4 linked regions of the Homo sapiens genome follow. The protein of the gene in region 1 purifies or fractionates together with the protein of each later gene. This does not show direct contact. Each region holds a gene or a part of one and is shown in the gene's direction. Other genes may lie near its edges.

The links. Proteins that work in one complex are often made in the same cells at the same time.
Region 2: the proteins of BBS7 (region 1) and CAMSAP3 purify together in Homo sapiens (affinity purification with mass spectrometry; 2 studies listed by BioGRID and IntAct, with this or other methods). This does not show direct contact.
Region 3: the proteins of BBS7 (region 1) and RFWD3 purify together in Homo sapiens (affinity purification with mass spectrometry; 2 studies listed by BioGRID and IntAct, with this or other methods). This does not show direct contact.
Region 4: the proteins of BBS7 (region 1) and C5orf34 purify together in Homo sapiens (affinity purification with mass spectrometry; 2 studies listed by BioGRID and IntAct, with this or other methods). This does not show direct contact.

What each region holds. Positions count from the first base shown.
Region 1 is NC_000004.12:121,860,475-121,863,974, reverse strand, and holds part of BBS7 (BBSome complex member BBS7), read left to right. Parts: intron 1-695; coding exon 696-758; intron 759-2,295; coding exon 2,296-2,471; intron 2,472-3,500.
Region 2 is NC_000019.10:7,598,863-7,602,362, forward strand, and holds part of CAMSAP3 (calmodulin-regulated spectrin-associated protein 3), read left to right. Parts: intron 1-3,500. UniProt on the Homo sapiens protein: Key microtubule-organizing protein that specifically binds the minus-end of non-centrosomal microtubules and regulates their dynamics and organization.
Region 3 is NC_000016.10:74,642,878-74,646,377, reverse strand, and holds part of RFWD3 (E3 ubiquitin-protein ligase RFWD3), read left to right. Parts: intron 1-713; exon of another isoform or gene 714-887; intron 888-1,642; coding exon 1,643-1,837; intron 1,838-1,924; coding exon 1,925-2,016; intron 2,017-3,500. UniProt on the Homo sapiens protein: E3 ubiquitin-protein ligase required for the repair of DNA interstrand cross-links (ICL) in response to DNA damage. Plays a key role in RPA-mediated DNA damage signaling and repair.
Region 4 is NC_000005.10:43,512,349-43,516,648, reverse strand, and holds the start of C5orf34 (uncharacterized protein C5orf34), read left to right. Parts: upstream 1-1,500; 5' UTR 1,501-1,843; exon of another isoform or gene 1,844-2,456; intron 2,457-4,300.

The sequences.
Region 1 (3,500 bases):
GCTCACCTCCTGCTGTGTGGCCTGGTACCCAGCAGGCCACGTACTGGAACTGGTCTAAGGTTGTTTGATATCTACTTTTGAGGAAGAAGTGTTAAAATGTCCCTCTATATTTATTTCAAAACAATTCATTGTCTACATGTTGGTAATTGTTGAAACTAGGTGATAGGCACATGATAATTCATTATAATATTTTGTGTACATTTTCATACATTAAAATTTTTCTTTTAAAAAAGGTGTTTAAAATTATTAAATATGTCAGTCACAACTTTATTTGATAATCTGTTTTAAAAGTTAATCTTAAAATGTTCTTATGCTCCAGTTATGAAAAAAAAATTACTTTGTAGGCATTTCTGTCCATAACTGTTGTCTGGCAGTATACCTTCGTAACAACCTGCATGTGGACTCCCAGAACCTACAATAAAAGTTGAAAAAAAGCAAAACAAAATATATTGTGTTGTCCTATTAACATTATAGGAACAAAATCTATGGCCAATTACTTTTCTAATGACTCTCCATATCCTTCTCTTTTGGCTCTTGTTCTTTTGAGGATTATTTTTTGTGGGGGTGTCTTTCCTAGATTTTCTGATCTCTATTAAGTCAGTATTTATAAATTAAGAATCTTGCTTTCCCTGTATATAATTATTAGGTCATAATATTAATAATAGTAATTTTAGATTATCTTCCATCTATTACAGGTGGTTATTGGAGATCATGATGGGGTAGTTATGTGCTTTGGCATGAAGAAAGGAGAAGCAGCAGTAAGTATAGCTTTGTGAAGGGGAAAAATGGTTTTCTAAAAGAGAATGCACTATTTATTGAATAATACTAGGTTAAAAATTTCCTAAAATACAGGTAATGGAAAATGGGTTCTGAGGTAAGTAGTTATGTGAGATATGAGTCTGCGGGTAGCACAAAAGTAATTTGCTAGCTAGTTGTAAGGCACCTTTGGCATCCTGTGGTCGTGGGTTACTTTTCTATGCTGTGTAATATATTACCCCAAATTTAGGGCCTTAACACAACACACATTTATTATCTAACAGTTTCTGTAGCACAGGAGTTTGTGCTCAAGGTTTCACACAGCTGCAATTTAGATGTCAGCTGAGCTGTGTTCCTTTCTAGAGTGTGGGGTCTTATTCCAAGCTCATGTGGTTGTTTGCAGAATTCAGTTCCTTGCTATTATAGGACTGAGGTCCCCACTTTATTAACATCTGTAAACCAGGGGCTGCTCTCAATTCCTTGAGGTCTCTGCAATTTCTTGCTCTGTGGTTCTCTTACAGTCCTTCTCACAACATGGTAATCTAATTCATCAAAGCCAGCAGGAAATTTCTGTAGTCTGCTAAGAAAGAATCTTATGTAGCATAATGTAATCATGGAAGCAACTAACCCACAACCTTTTCCACTTAATTTAACCTAATCAAGGAAGTTATTACTATTACATTATCATATTTACAGATCATAATTAGAAACTTAGAATGATGAGTCTGAGATGTGAATTCTAGTATTCATTATATATTATATGGAATTTCCAGAAAGATGAAGAGAATAAAAACTACCAGAAACTCAGTGTTTCCATTATTCATATTCTCCCAGATATCTTATTCTCTGTATATAAAGTCATGGGGAGGAAGTGGAGGAGAAGAAGCTGGTGCAAATAATAAAATGGAAAATAACCACAAAAAAATTAATGAAATGAATATTGTTTTCAGTTAAATAGATATATGATTATAGGTATTAAGTCATACATTCACATTTTCAGTAAATTCTATAGTCCTTTAACTATTAAAATTTATAAAAATTGTAAAGAAGCCAGGAAAGATTAGTTTTAAAAGATGATTGAAGTGTAAAAACATGTTCATTGGACCTCATTAAAGAATTTGCCAAATGGACTTCCCTGTTCGTAGGAGTATTGTTAATCCAATGCCTCTAAAACTTCAGTAGGCATAGGAACCAGCTGGGGAATCTTGTTAAAATACAGATTCTCATTCAGTTGATCTGCTGCATTTTAAATAAATTTAGTGATGCTAACATTGCTGCTTAGTGAACTGTACTTTGAATTACAAGGATTTAGATTTCAATGACATCATTCAAATATGTGTGGGAATATATATTTAAAAGTTAAGTATAGCAAAAAACCTGAAGACCTGCTGAAGTATATAGATTATTATCTAAAATTATTTCTATATAGTGGAACTATAATATTTTGCAAATTTAACATCATAACATTTTCTATTGTAAAGGAAAAAATGCTCACAATAAAGTAATTTGTGTACTTTTTTCCTGAATGATTTTTTTCAGGCAGTGTTCAAGACTTTACCCGGGCCGAAGATTGCAAGGCTGGAACTGGGAGGGGTTATCAACACACCTCAGGAGAAAATTTTTATTGCTGCAGCATCTGAGATTAGAGGCTTCACAAAAAGAGGAAAACAGTTCCTCTCCTTTGAAACAAACCTCACTGAAAGCATTAAAGCTATGTATGTCTTTTGTTCTCTTTTGTATTTTTACATACTTATTTATAATATTTTGGATAGATGTGAGGCAACTAAGTATCATATCTTAATAGGCTTTCTGGAAAATAAAATTAACTAAAGGTATTTTATTAGTCAGAAACTAAATTTGACCTACAATCAATATTAAATTGGTTGTTGAAATTTTTTTAAAGAACTTTATAGTATTTATACAATCATTTTTGACAACTTGGTTCAGTTTGATTCATGATCAAGGTATCAAAAAAATTGAAAATAAATCTAGATATTTAGCTTTATGTTCCTTGGCTATTTTTGATAGTTCTGGTTTTCAGGTAGCATCATTATGTTAAAAGGCTGGCTGTCAAAGTTAGTGATTACCAATAGGGTATAATTTCAGGTATATCAGGTAAGACTCTAAGTGAAATATAGCTCCCTAAATGGCTGCCTGATATGTGAGATTTTGCAATTCAGATTTGAGTTTTTGAATCACAGGGAGCTGAAAAGGGCTTTAAAATTCATCTAATTCATTATTTCTTATATTTGCTACTTAGAAGAATCCCTTGGGCCACTTAAACAATTCCTTGTCCTACCTCATACCTGCCGAATCAAAATAACCAGGAGTAGGTTTTATTTTTATTTTTTAAGTTCTTCCTTTGAATCTAGTGCAGCCAAGTTATATAATCAGCCAGACTCTTAGGCTAGAAACAACTGATTCAGCCCAAAGTTTTGTATAATGCACAGCACATCTCCTGATGTTTGGGATGTAAAACATTGGCTTGGTGAAATTAGATTAAAATTAAACCATGATAAGTGGAAATATGTAATTTCAAATGGTTTAACAAGAATAGTAACACTTTTGAAATACACTTGTATATAGACATGGCCAATGATAATTATGGAATACTGAAAGTAATGTGTTAATAGCATAACTCTACATTCGGACAGTTATATGGATAGTAGTGTGAGAAAGATAGAGAGTTTCTCAGTAACAGTCTCTTCAAGTGGTTTCTTAAATGTTTTTACTAGAGTGGCAAA
Region 2 (3,500 bases), on another chromosome or scaffold:
TGATGTGTGAGGGAAACTCAAGTTCATGTTGGACATTTTTATCCTGGACAAGTTATCTCAGCTCTCCAGGCCTTGGTTTTCTCATCTGTACAAGGGGTATAATAATAAGTGTCGTAAGGATTAAATGACTGGATGCAGGGAAGGTCATGGTATAAATAAATGGTTGGGTGTGGTGGCATGGGCTTGTAGTCCCAGCTACTCAGGAGGCTGAGGCAGGAGGATTGCCTGAGCCCAGGAGTTCCAGGGTACAGTCAGCTATGATCACGCCACTGCACTCCAGCCTGGGCAACAGAGTGAGATCCTGTCTCAATCAGCCTTCCATCCATCCATCCACCCATCCATCTACCCACTCATCCATCCATCCACCCACCCATTCATTCATCCATCCATCCACCCACCCACCTACCCACTGCACTCATCCATCCACCCACCCACCCCACTCATCCATCCACCCACCCCACTCATCCATCCACCCACGCACTCATCCATCCACCCATCCATCCACCCACTCATCCATCCATCCACCCATCCATCCACCCATTCATTCATCCATCCATCCATCCACCCACCTACCCACTGCACTCATCCATCCACCCACCCACCCACCCACCCCACTCATCCATCCACCCACGCACTCATCCATCCACCCATCCATCCACCCACTCATCCATCCTTCCACCCACCCATTCATTCATCCATCCATCCATCCATCCATCCATCCATCCACCCACCCACCTACTCACCGCACTCATCCATCCACCCACCCCACTCATCCATCCACCCACCCACCCACCCCACTCATCCATCCACCCACCCCACTCATCCATCCACCCACGCACTCATCCACCCACACACTCATCCATCCACCCACCCCACTCATCCATCCAACCACGCACTCATCCATCCACCCACTCATCCACCCGCCCATCCATCCACCCGCCCATCCATCCACCCACCCACCCACCCATCCACCCACCCACCTACCCACCCACACACTCTCCCACCCACCCATCCACCTATCCACCCATCCATCCACCCACCCATCCACCCATCCATCCATCCACCCACCCACCAACTCATCCACCTACCCACCCACCCACTCATCCACCCACCCACCCATCCACCCATCCATCCACCCGCCCACTCATCCATCCACCCGCCCACTCATCCATCCACCCGCCCACTCATCCATCCACCCGCCCATCCATCCATCCACCCACCCATCCATCCACCTACCCACACTCCCACCCAGCCATCCACCCACCCACCCTCCCACCCATCCACCCACCCACCCTCCCACCCATCCACCCACCCACCCATCTACCCATCCGTCCGTCCATCCACCCACCCACCCATCTATCCTTCCACCCACCCACCCACCCACTCATCCATCCACCCATCCACCCACCCACTCATCCATCCACCCACCCACCCACTCTCCCACCCTCGCACCCACCCACCAACTCATCCACCCACCCACCCACTCATCCACCCACCCACCCATCCACCCATCCGTCCACCCGCCCACTCATCCATGCACCCGCCGACTCATCCATCCACCCGCCCATCCATCCATCCACCCACCCACCCACCCCCTCATCCATCCACCCACCCTCCCACCGTCCCACCCATCCACCTATCCACCCATCCACCCACCCACTCGTCTACCCATCCATCCATCCACCCACCCACCCCCCATCCATCCACCCACACACCCACCCACTCATCCATCCACCAACCCACCCACTCATCCACTCATCCATCCACCCACCCACTTATCCATCCACCCACCCACTCATCCACTCATCCATCCACCCACCCACTCATCCATCCACCCACCCATCCACCCACCCTTCCATCCACCCATCCATCCACCCACCCACCCATCCTCCCACCCTTCCACCCACCCACCCATCCACTTATCCACCCATCCACCCACCCACCCATCTACCCATCCATCTATCTGTCCATCCACCTACCCATTCATCCATCCATCCATCCACCCACCCATTCATCCATTTATCCATCCATCCATCCATCCACCCACCCATTCATCCATTTATCCATCCATCCATCCATTCACCCACCCATTCATCCATTTATCCATCCATCCATCCATCCATCCTAGCTATGTTGTAGACCTGTGCTATTCAATATGGTGGCCACCAGCCAGATGTGGCTACTGAGTCACTTGAAATGTGGTTGATCAGAACCAAGATGTGCTGTAAATGTAAAATATACTCAGGGTTCCAAAGACTTGGTCCAAAAACAAACAACAAAAACCAGTGTAAAATATCTTATGAATAATATTTTTATGTTGATTACATGTTAAAATAAGAGTGGGATATGTCTTGGGTCAATGAAATATATTACTAAATTCTTATTGTTTCTACATATGTAATGTGGCTTCTAGGAAACTTGACGGCTCATTGGGCTCACATTATACGCATTATATTTCTTTTTTTTTTCTTTTTGAGACAGCATCTTGCTCTGTGGCCCAGGCTGGAGTGCCGGGGCACAATCTCGGCTCACCACAGCCTCCGTCTCCTGGGTTCAAGTGATTCTCGTGCCTCAGCCTCCTGAGTAGCTGGGATTACAGACATGCGCCACCACGCCCAGCTAATTTTTGTATTTTTAGTAGAGGTGGGGTTTCACCATGTTGGCCAGTCTGGGCACATTGTATTTCTATCAGACAGCAGTGTTCTGCTGTAAATAATGCTCAGTAAACATTTTAGCCAGGTGTGGTAGCACATGCCTGTAGTCCCAGCTACTCAGGAGGCTGAGGTGGGAGGGTCCCTTGAACTCAGGAGTTCAAGACCAGCCTGAGCAACATAGTGAGACCCCATCTCTAAAATAAAATAAAATAAAATAAAATAAAATAAAATAAAATAAATGAATAAATAAAATAAAAAGAAAGTGGGGCCAGGTGTGGTGGCTCATGCCTGTAATCCCAGCACTTTGGGAGGCTAAGGTGGGTGGGTTGCTTGAGGTCAGGGTTTGAGACCAGCCTGGTCAACGTGGTGAAACCCCATCTCTACTAAAAATACAAAAAGTAGCCGGGCATGGTGGTGCACGCCTGTAGTCCCAGCTACTTGGGAGGCTGAAGCAGGAGAATAGCTTGAACTTGGGAAGCAGAGGTCGCAGTGAGCCGAGATGGCACCACTGCACTCCAGCCTGGGTGACAGAGCAAGATTGTCTCAAAAAAAAAAGGAAAGAAAAATAGAATAAGTTTATAGTATAAGGCAGTGGTTCTCAACTGGTGATGATTTTGACACTTAATTGACATTTGGCAGTGTCTGGGGACATTTGTGGTTGTCATTACTTGGGAGGAATGTACTACTGACGTCTAGTAAATACAGACCAGAGATTTTGCTAAACATCTCACAGTGTACAGGACAGGACAGCATCCCCTGAATACAAAGAATTTTCCAGCCCCAAGTACCAATGAACCAAGGTGGAAGAACATCGGTGTATAATAAGTGTCTGATAAATGTCAGTGT
Region 3 (3,500 bases), on another chromosome or scaffold:
TTGAGACAGGGTCTCATTCTGTCCCTCATGCTGGAGTGCAGTGGCACAATCATAGCTCACTGCAGCCTCAATATCCCGGGCTCAGGTGATGCTTCTACCTCAGCCTCCTGACTACTTGGGACTGCAGGCATGTGCCACCACACATGGCTAATTTTTTAAATTTTTAACAGGGACAAGGTCTTGCTATGTTGTCCAGTCTGGTTTCAAACTCCTGAGCTCAAGGAATCCTCCTGCCTTGGCCTCCCAATAAGCTGGGACTGTAGGTGTGATTACTACACCTGGCCTGCTTGGAACAATCTTATATAATTATCTTAGAATATATTTGTGACTGGCTGGGCATGGTGGCTCACGTCTGTAATCCCTGCACTTTGGGAGGCCAAGGCGGACGGATCGCGAGGTCAGGAGATCGAGACCATCCTAACTAACACGGTGAAACCCCGTCTCTACTAAAAATACACAAAATCGGGCTTGGTGGCAGGCGCCTGTAGTCCCAGCTACTCAGGAGGCTGAGGCAAGAGAATGGTGTGAACCCAGGAGGCGGAACTTGCAGTGAGCCGAGATTCTGCCGCTACACTCCAGCCTGGGCGACAGAGCGAGAGTCTGTCTCAAAAAAAAAAAAAAAAAAAAAAAAAGAAAATATTTGTGACTATGATCATGGGCTGCATAATAGTTCAGTCTATGACAGACCACATGTATGATGGTTGTCCCATTAGATGATAATACCAGGCTGGGCGCAGTGGCTCACACTTATAATCCCAGCACTTTGGGAGACCAAGGCGGGCGGATCACTTGAGGTCAGGAGTTCGGGACCAGCCCGGCCAACATGGTGAAACCCACCACTGTGCTACAGTTGCCTACAGTATTTGGTACAGTAACATCCTATACAGGTTTGTTGTCTAAGTATGTAATAGTTTACACCGTCTAGGTTTATTTAAGTACCTCTGGGATCATTCAATGACGAAATCGCCTAAAGACGCATTTCTCAGAATGTATTCCCATTGTCAAGCAATGCATGACTATATATCCATGAGGTATCTCTAGCAGAGAGATTGCTATGCCAAAGGAAAGATATATGTGTTTTAATTTTCATGGATAATGCCAAATGGTGCTCCAGAAATGTGTGCCACTTTACATTTAAGGCAACAGTATATAAGCATGTCCATATCTCATTTACCCACAACAGTGCTTGGTGTCATCAGACATCAATTTATACCAGTCTGATAGATGAAAAATGGTCTCTTTAATTTGCATTTCTTTAATTATAAGCAAACACTTATTGACCATTGTGTTTTCTTGTAAGCATTTGTATCCTTTGTTTTCTTTTTTTGCCCTCTGGTACACATGAGTTAAATATTTTATAGCTGCTATTCTTTATATGGATAGCTGCTTTTCTTCCTTTGAGTGAAGGAAAAAGTATCCAAGAATTTTATAAGATTTAAGAGTAGTATAGTTTTCATAGCTTATATTTTGTGACATTGCATTCTAGAAAGAATGACAAGTGATTCATAGGTGTTACAAGTGTTCTGTAGCCCTTTTGATTGTATCATTTTTTTTGCACTTCTGTTAATTTCTTAGTTGCACATCTTCTTCAAGATTGATTTTACATTTTCTCTAATTTGAATATATTCTGCTTTCCATCTAGCCATCTCCCCAGAAGTCTGAGCCTCTGCTACCTTCTGCTTCTATGGATGAGGAAGAAGGGGACACTTGTACAATATGTCTGGAACAGTGGACCAATGCTGGGGACCACCGGCTCTCAGCATTACGCTGTGGGCATCTCTTTGGGTATAGGTGCATTTCCACGTGGCTTAAAGGACAAGTACGAAAATGTCCCCAGGTAAGGACCATAGGTAAGGACACATTAACATGTTAAGTCAGGCAGATTCCTAGAACCACTCTAATTATGTCCTATTGGGTTCTTTAGTGCAACAAGAAAGCCAGGCACAGTGACATTGTCGTCCTTTATGCCCGAACCCTGAGAGCTTTGGACACTAGTGAACAGGAGCGCATGAAAAGGTAGGTGGTAAGAGTATGCCTGGCTGGAATGTTCCCTTTTGGTTCATTGTAGGCACATCTGAAAAAGAAGTTATGAGTCACTCGTAGTGAGGTTTTACTTGACCTGTGACTTGGGATCTCTGGGGATCATTGGCAGTCTGTCTTACACTGTTATTTATAATTCATGTCTGATCATCTTCTTAAGGAAGTCTGCATCGTTTGCCTTATGTAGAGCATTAAACACAAGGATCTGGCACATTACTTCTGTTGCCATTTTTGCTTCTCATATCCCTGACCACCCCCCGCCACAGCAGTTCTCCATACAGAAAACTCATAAGTGAAGCTTTGCACATGCAGTGCAATGTAAAAAATTACCAGGATTTCGGAAGCACAAAACAGTTGCTAGGGCCGGGCATGGTGGCTCACGCCTGTAATCCCAGCACTTTGGGAGGCCAAGGTGGGCAGATCACAAGGTCAGGAGATCAAGACCATCCTGGCTAACACGGTGAAACCCCGTCTCTACTAAAAAATACAAAAAAATTAGCCGGGCATAGTGGCGGACGCCTGTAATCCCAGCTACTGAGGAGGCTGAGACAGGAGAATGGCGTGAACCCGTGAGGCAGAGCTTGCAGTGAGCCGAAATTGCACCACTGCACTCCAGCCTGGGCGACAGAGCAAGACTCCGTCTCAAAAAAAAAAAAAAAAAAAAAAAACAGTTGCTAGTAACACCACTCAGTATATGCTTCAAAAATATTAAAGAACATACACACCATTGAGAGAGAGGTACAGTGACATGGGTTCACACTTTACTGGTTTGGATGTACACAGGCAAAATCATTTTGAGACATCCTTGGAAATGTGTCTCTAAAGCCTTTGATCTAGTAATTGTTCAGGCATTCTAAAGAAACATTGAAGGCTGTGTACCAAGATTTACTTAATGAAACTTCATTTAGCATTGTTAAAAATCTAAGGCAAGGGGATTGCTTAGTTGAATGAACGGTGGTGTATGCATGAACAGAATACAATGTTGAAATGTGCATATGTTGTCCTGTGGAAGCATGTTATTAGTATGATTGCATTTTTGTGAACTAGAAAAAAAGTAAGGCTGGTGCGGTGGCTCACTCTTGTAATCCCAGCACTTTGGGAGGCCAAGGCAAAAGGATTGCTTAAGACCAGGAGTTCAAGACCAACCTGGCCAACATAGATCCTATCTGTATTTAAAATTTTTTTTAAAAGAAAGAAAAAAAGCTCTATAGGTAGTCACTGTACAGATTATTTTAGTTTTCTTCCTTGTTTTTACTCATTTGGTCCAACCAATGCTCACTTGTAGCGTTTTTAAATAATGGAAGATGTGTACAGAGAGGAATTTTGTTGAAAAGGCAAAATCTATACGTGTGGCTGTAATGGGTGATTATATTTAAAAACAATTCACTGATTACAATAAGGAATTAGTATACTCTCCAGCCTCATTAGAAAAAGTGAAGAGTTTCAAAATGCCGATACAG
Region 4 (4,300 bases), on another chromosome or scaffold:
GAATTGCTTGAACCCGGGAGGCGGAGATTGCAGTGAGCTGAAATCGCGCCACTGCACTGCAGCCTGGGCGACAGAGTGAGACTCCGTCTCAAAAAAAAAAGAAAAAGAAAAGGAGAGAGAGAGAGAGAAGGTCAAGTGCCGCATTTAACCATGATCTTAGGATGGGCTCCCTGCATGCTCAGAGCCCTCTTTACCCTTGGGAAGTGAGCACACACAGTGATTTTATGGATTTATACACATGCCCATCTGAGGCTTTCTTCCTTTTTCCGGTGGAGTGTATCAGAAAAATCATACTTCATCACTTTTGTCTCTTAACCGGCATGCCCAGGAAGTTGCTTCTCTCTGGGGCCTGCATTCAATTAACATTTTGATGTTAACAGGTGTGGGCCATCAGGAAATGGCCTTTCCCTGGCGCTGCCAAATTTTCATTTTTAGAGAGGCCATGTGATAATTGCTGAACCATCACCCAACATTTCTAGTGGGTGGGTGGCAGGGGAGAGCCCTCTCCTGCCTTGCTCATGCCTAACTACCTGTAACAGATTCAGTTCGCCATTTTATAATGTATGAGCATGATCTGTGGTCCCCCAAAACAATTACAGTAGTGACATCAAAGATCAGTGATCACACAGATCACTCTAACAGATACAAAAATAATGAAAAAGTTTGAAATATTGTGGGAATTACCAAAATATGTCAGAGACACAAAGTGAGCACATGATGTTGGAAAAACATGGCACCCATACACTTGCTCCATCAAGGTTGCCTCAAACCTTCCATTTGTAGTAAACTCAGTATCTGCAAAGCACAATAAAATGCACAATAAAACAAGGTATGCCTCTCTATGCTCTCACAAACCTCTGTATTTTATCTTAGAAACACTCACAACTGTAATAAATGATTGTTTATTCTTTCTTTCCAGTTAATCTCTAGCTCTGATCCTCACCCGCAAAGAACTGGGCCACCTTCCCTGCTTTATCCCCACTATGCCTAAACACACAGTGAGTGTTCCATAAACACTTGTTTAGTGGCAATAAATATAGCAGACACATTTATTTGCCACTTTATAAGGAAAAAAGGTGCAGATACATAGACGACCTATTTTCTGATACCAAATTAGGAAGAGTTCTCCATCTTTGGCCAAGTTTTTTTTTTTCTAAACAGCTTTACTGAAGTATAATCGTTTTTTACCTTATTTAAAAATAAGTACCACTCCACTAAAACGCGCTCTGTGGTTAGTTCTCGGCTGGACCGTTCAAAAGGCTGATCCTTACAGCCTTTATTATTAATACAACCAGGTCGGGACTGCTTTTGCGTGGGTCACCAGAAGTAAAAAATCAAAGAGGAGCCAACCCCATTCCGAACAAGGAAACACCCGTCCCCTTCCTACACCAATTCCTGCTCCGCCCTTCGTAGGGAACGCAGCGAGGGCAGCCTCCGGAGTGGAGGGGCGGGACTTCCGGCCCTTCCTGTTGTGGAGGGGCGGGACTTCCTGTCTTCCCTGTTGCGGAGCTCTGAAGCGGCTCCCTGAGGGCGCTGGTTTTGAACTGGTCTTGTGCGGTTTGCGCTTTCTCTTAGTGGTTACAGTTGGCGCTGTCTCCGCTTTCCTGTTTCGTGGCGGGCATCTTGGCCAAAACACTCTCCCTGCCACCTTATTCCTCTAGGGTTGTGATTTTTTTCTTTCACCAAGAAATATCACTCGCTGGTAATTTGTCAAACTGAAGAAACCCCTGAAGAAGCAGTGGTGGGCAGGCGCCGACGCTGCGGCTTCCAGAGCATTTTGGCAAATCAAAGCCAGGGACCGTTGCTGGGCCTCATTTCCGCAACTTTTCGGCTCCGAACTGCTGTGAGTGGAAGACTTTTGGTGGTTGTTTTGATCAGGCTCCTTCTGTAACTAGAGACTATAGCATTTTGAAAGAAATGAGATTCTCATTCATGTCAAGAACAGACTTGTGGATTTTTGAGTGTTAAACATACCCTGACGTAATGTGCTGGGTGATGAGAACGCAAGCGGGAATGAGACTGTAGAGATGAGAATGGCAGTGTGGGTTGGAGCCGGGTTATGGTTTCCTATGGTATGCCAAGAACCTTAGTCATTACACTGTTTGTTGTGTATGCTTGATTATTTAAAATTAGAAAACCGCCTCAGTAAAGCTATTAAAAAAAAGACCTGACCAAAGATAGACTATTTTTCCCAAATTGGAATCAGAAAATGTCTTCCATCTATGTATCAGCACCCGTTTTTTCCCCTAAAATACCAAGTAGACATACCCGATATATACGTGTGTGTTTATATATATATCTGTAATCTATATTGCCATTTGATAAGTACGTAAACAGGTGATGTAAAGCACTTGGTATGGTGTGACTTGTGGAAAGTTACCTATGTCATCAATACTAGAGATGGATTGGAGAGAGAAGAAATTCCAGACAGTTGCAGGAGTTGGAGAGTCTATGGCCTGAAAAAGAGAAAGAGGTAGAGAGAGTCAGGTTCCAAAGACAGAAAATCAACAGGACTTGTTACAGGGGCATGGAGTGGAAAGTCAAGTTTTAGAATATTGGCTGCTAACAATGAGACACCATTAATTCAAATTGCAAATTCAAGAGGAGCAGTTTACTTATTTTTCATCATTCAAATATTTATTGTGCCATTTACTATTTGCCTAATACTGTTTTAGATGCCAGAGATACTGTTACATATAAGACAGATAAGGCCCCTGCTTCGGTTGACTTTATATCCTAGTGGGAGAAAATAAAAAGCAAGTAAATAATCAATTTTGATGATAGATTCTATGAAGAAAAAACTTGAAGAGGGATGACAAATGATTGGGAGATGTTTGGGAGTAACTTTAACTTAGTTGGTCGTTGGGCCCTTGTAGGAGTTACATTTGTGCTGAAACCTTGATGATGATAAAGAACCAGCCTTGTGATTAGCCAAGGAAAAGACAAGGCAGGCAGAAAGAACTGCAAAGATGGGAAAGAGCTTGTTTAAAGAACATTTAAAATGCCAATGTATCTAAAGTGCCCTGTAGAAGTAGGAGAGAGTTGAGAAATGACATTGGGAGAGGTAGATAGGACCAGACTGTGTGGCCTTTGTAGGCCATAGTTTAGGAGTTTGGATTTTAAGTAGAAATGGAAGGTACTGGTGGGTTTTAAGCCACGAAGTGATAGATGTGATTTTCATTTTAAAAGATCCCTCTGGGCACTACTGTATGCAGACTGGATTTGAGGGAAGAGATGAGAGTGAAAGTGCAATTAGGGGGTATTACAGAAGCCTGCTTTTGGTAGGAGTGATTAAGTTCCATTTTAGTTATGTTGAGTTTGATTTATCTATGGGACAGGGACATAGAGAGCGGTCTAGCAGGCAGCCACCTGAAAGCTCTGTGAGAGGTCAGGTACATTTAGTTCTCTAGAGAAAGAAAATAATTAAAAGTGTGTGAATCTCCTCAGGAGAGACCATGTGGTTAAATATTTACTTATATCCTGACATATCCTCAGAAGATTACAGATGATATCACCTACAGCTGATTACATACATTAAAGGGGGTAAGGTTAAAAAAAGACAAGGTGGGCCAGGTGCGGTGGCTCACGCCTGTAATCCCAGCACTTTGGGAGGCCAAAACGGGTGGATCACGAGGTGTGGAGTTCCAGACCATTCTGGCCAACATGGTGAAAACCTGTCTCTACTAAAAATACAAAAAATGAGCCAGGCGTGGTGGCACGCACCTGTAGTCCCAGCTACTCAGGAGGCTGAGGCAGGAGAATCACTTGAACCCGGGAGGCAGAGGTTGCAGTGAGCCCAGATTGCGCCACTCTACTCCAGCCTGGCAACAGAGCAAGACTCTGTCTCAAAAAAAAAAAAAAAAAAAAAAAAAAAAAAAAAAAAAAAAAGACAAGGTGGGGCATAAAAGTGACATCAGTGTTATGTTAAGAAGGGATGAAATGTGGACTAAGGTCAGGTCTTGAAGAATCCTTGATTTAAGGGAATGGTGAAGAAGAATGATTAAACTAAAAACAGGTAGAAGTGAAGAAGAAAACTGTGGCAGCCCAATGTTAGGGGAGAAAAGTAGGGGAAAAGAGAGTTTGGTGCAAGGGAATGTAGACAATGCTGTTACACGTTGATGAGGTTTAGTAGGATGAAGACTAAAGTCATTGGGTATAAGAAGACATTGGCGACCATTGCGAAACAATGTCAGTAAAGAGATAGAGGTGAAAGCTGGATTGCAGTGAATTGAAGACTGATAGGAGAGAAGGTTGGTAGTGAGTGAATACTACACTTGAGCTGTTTATAGGTAGGAAATAG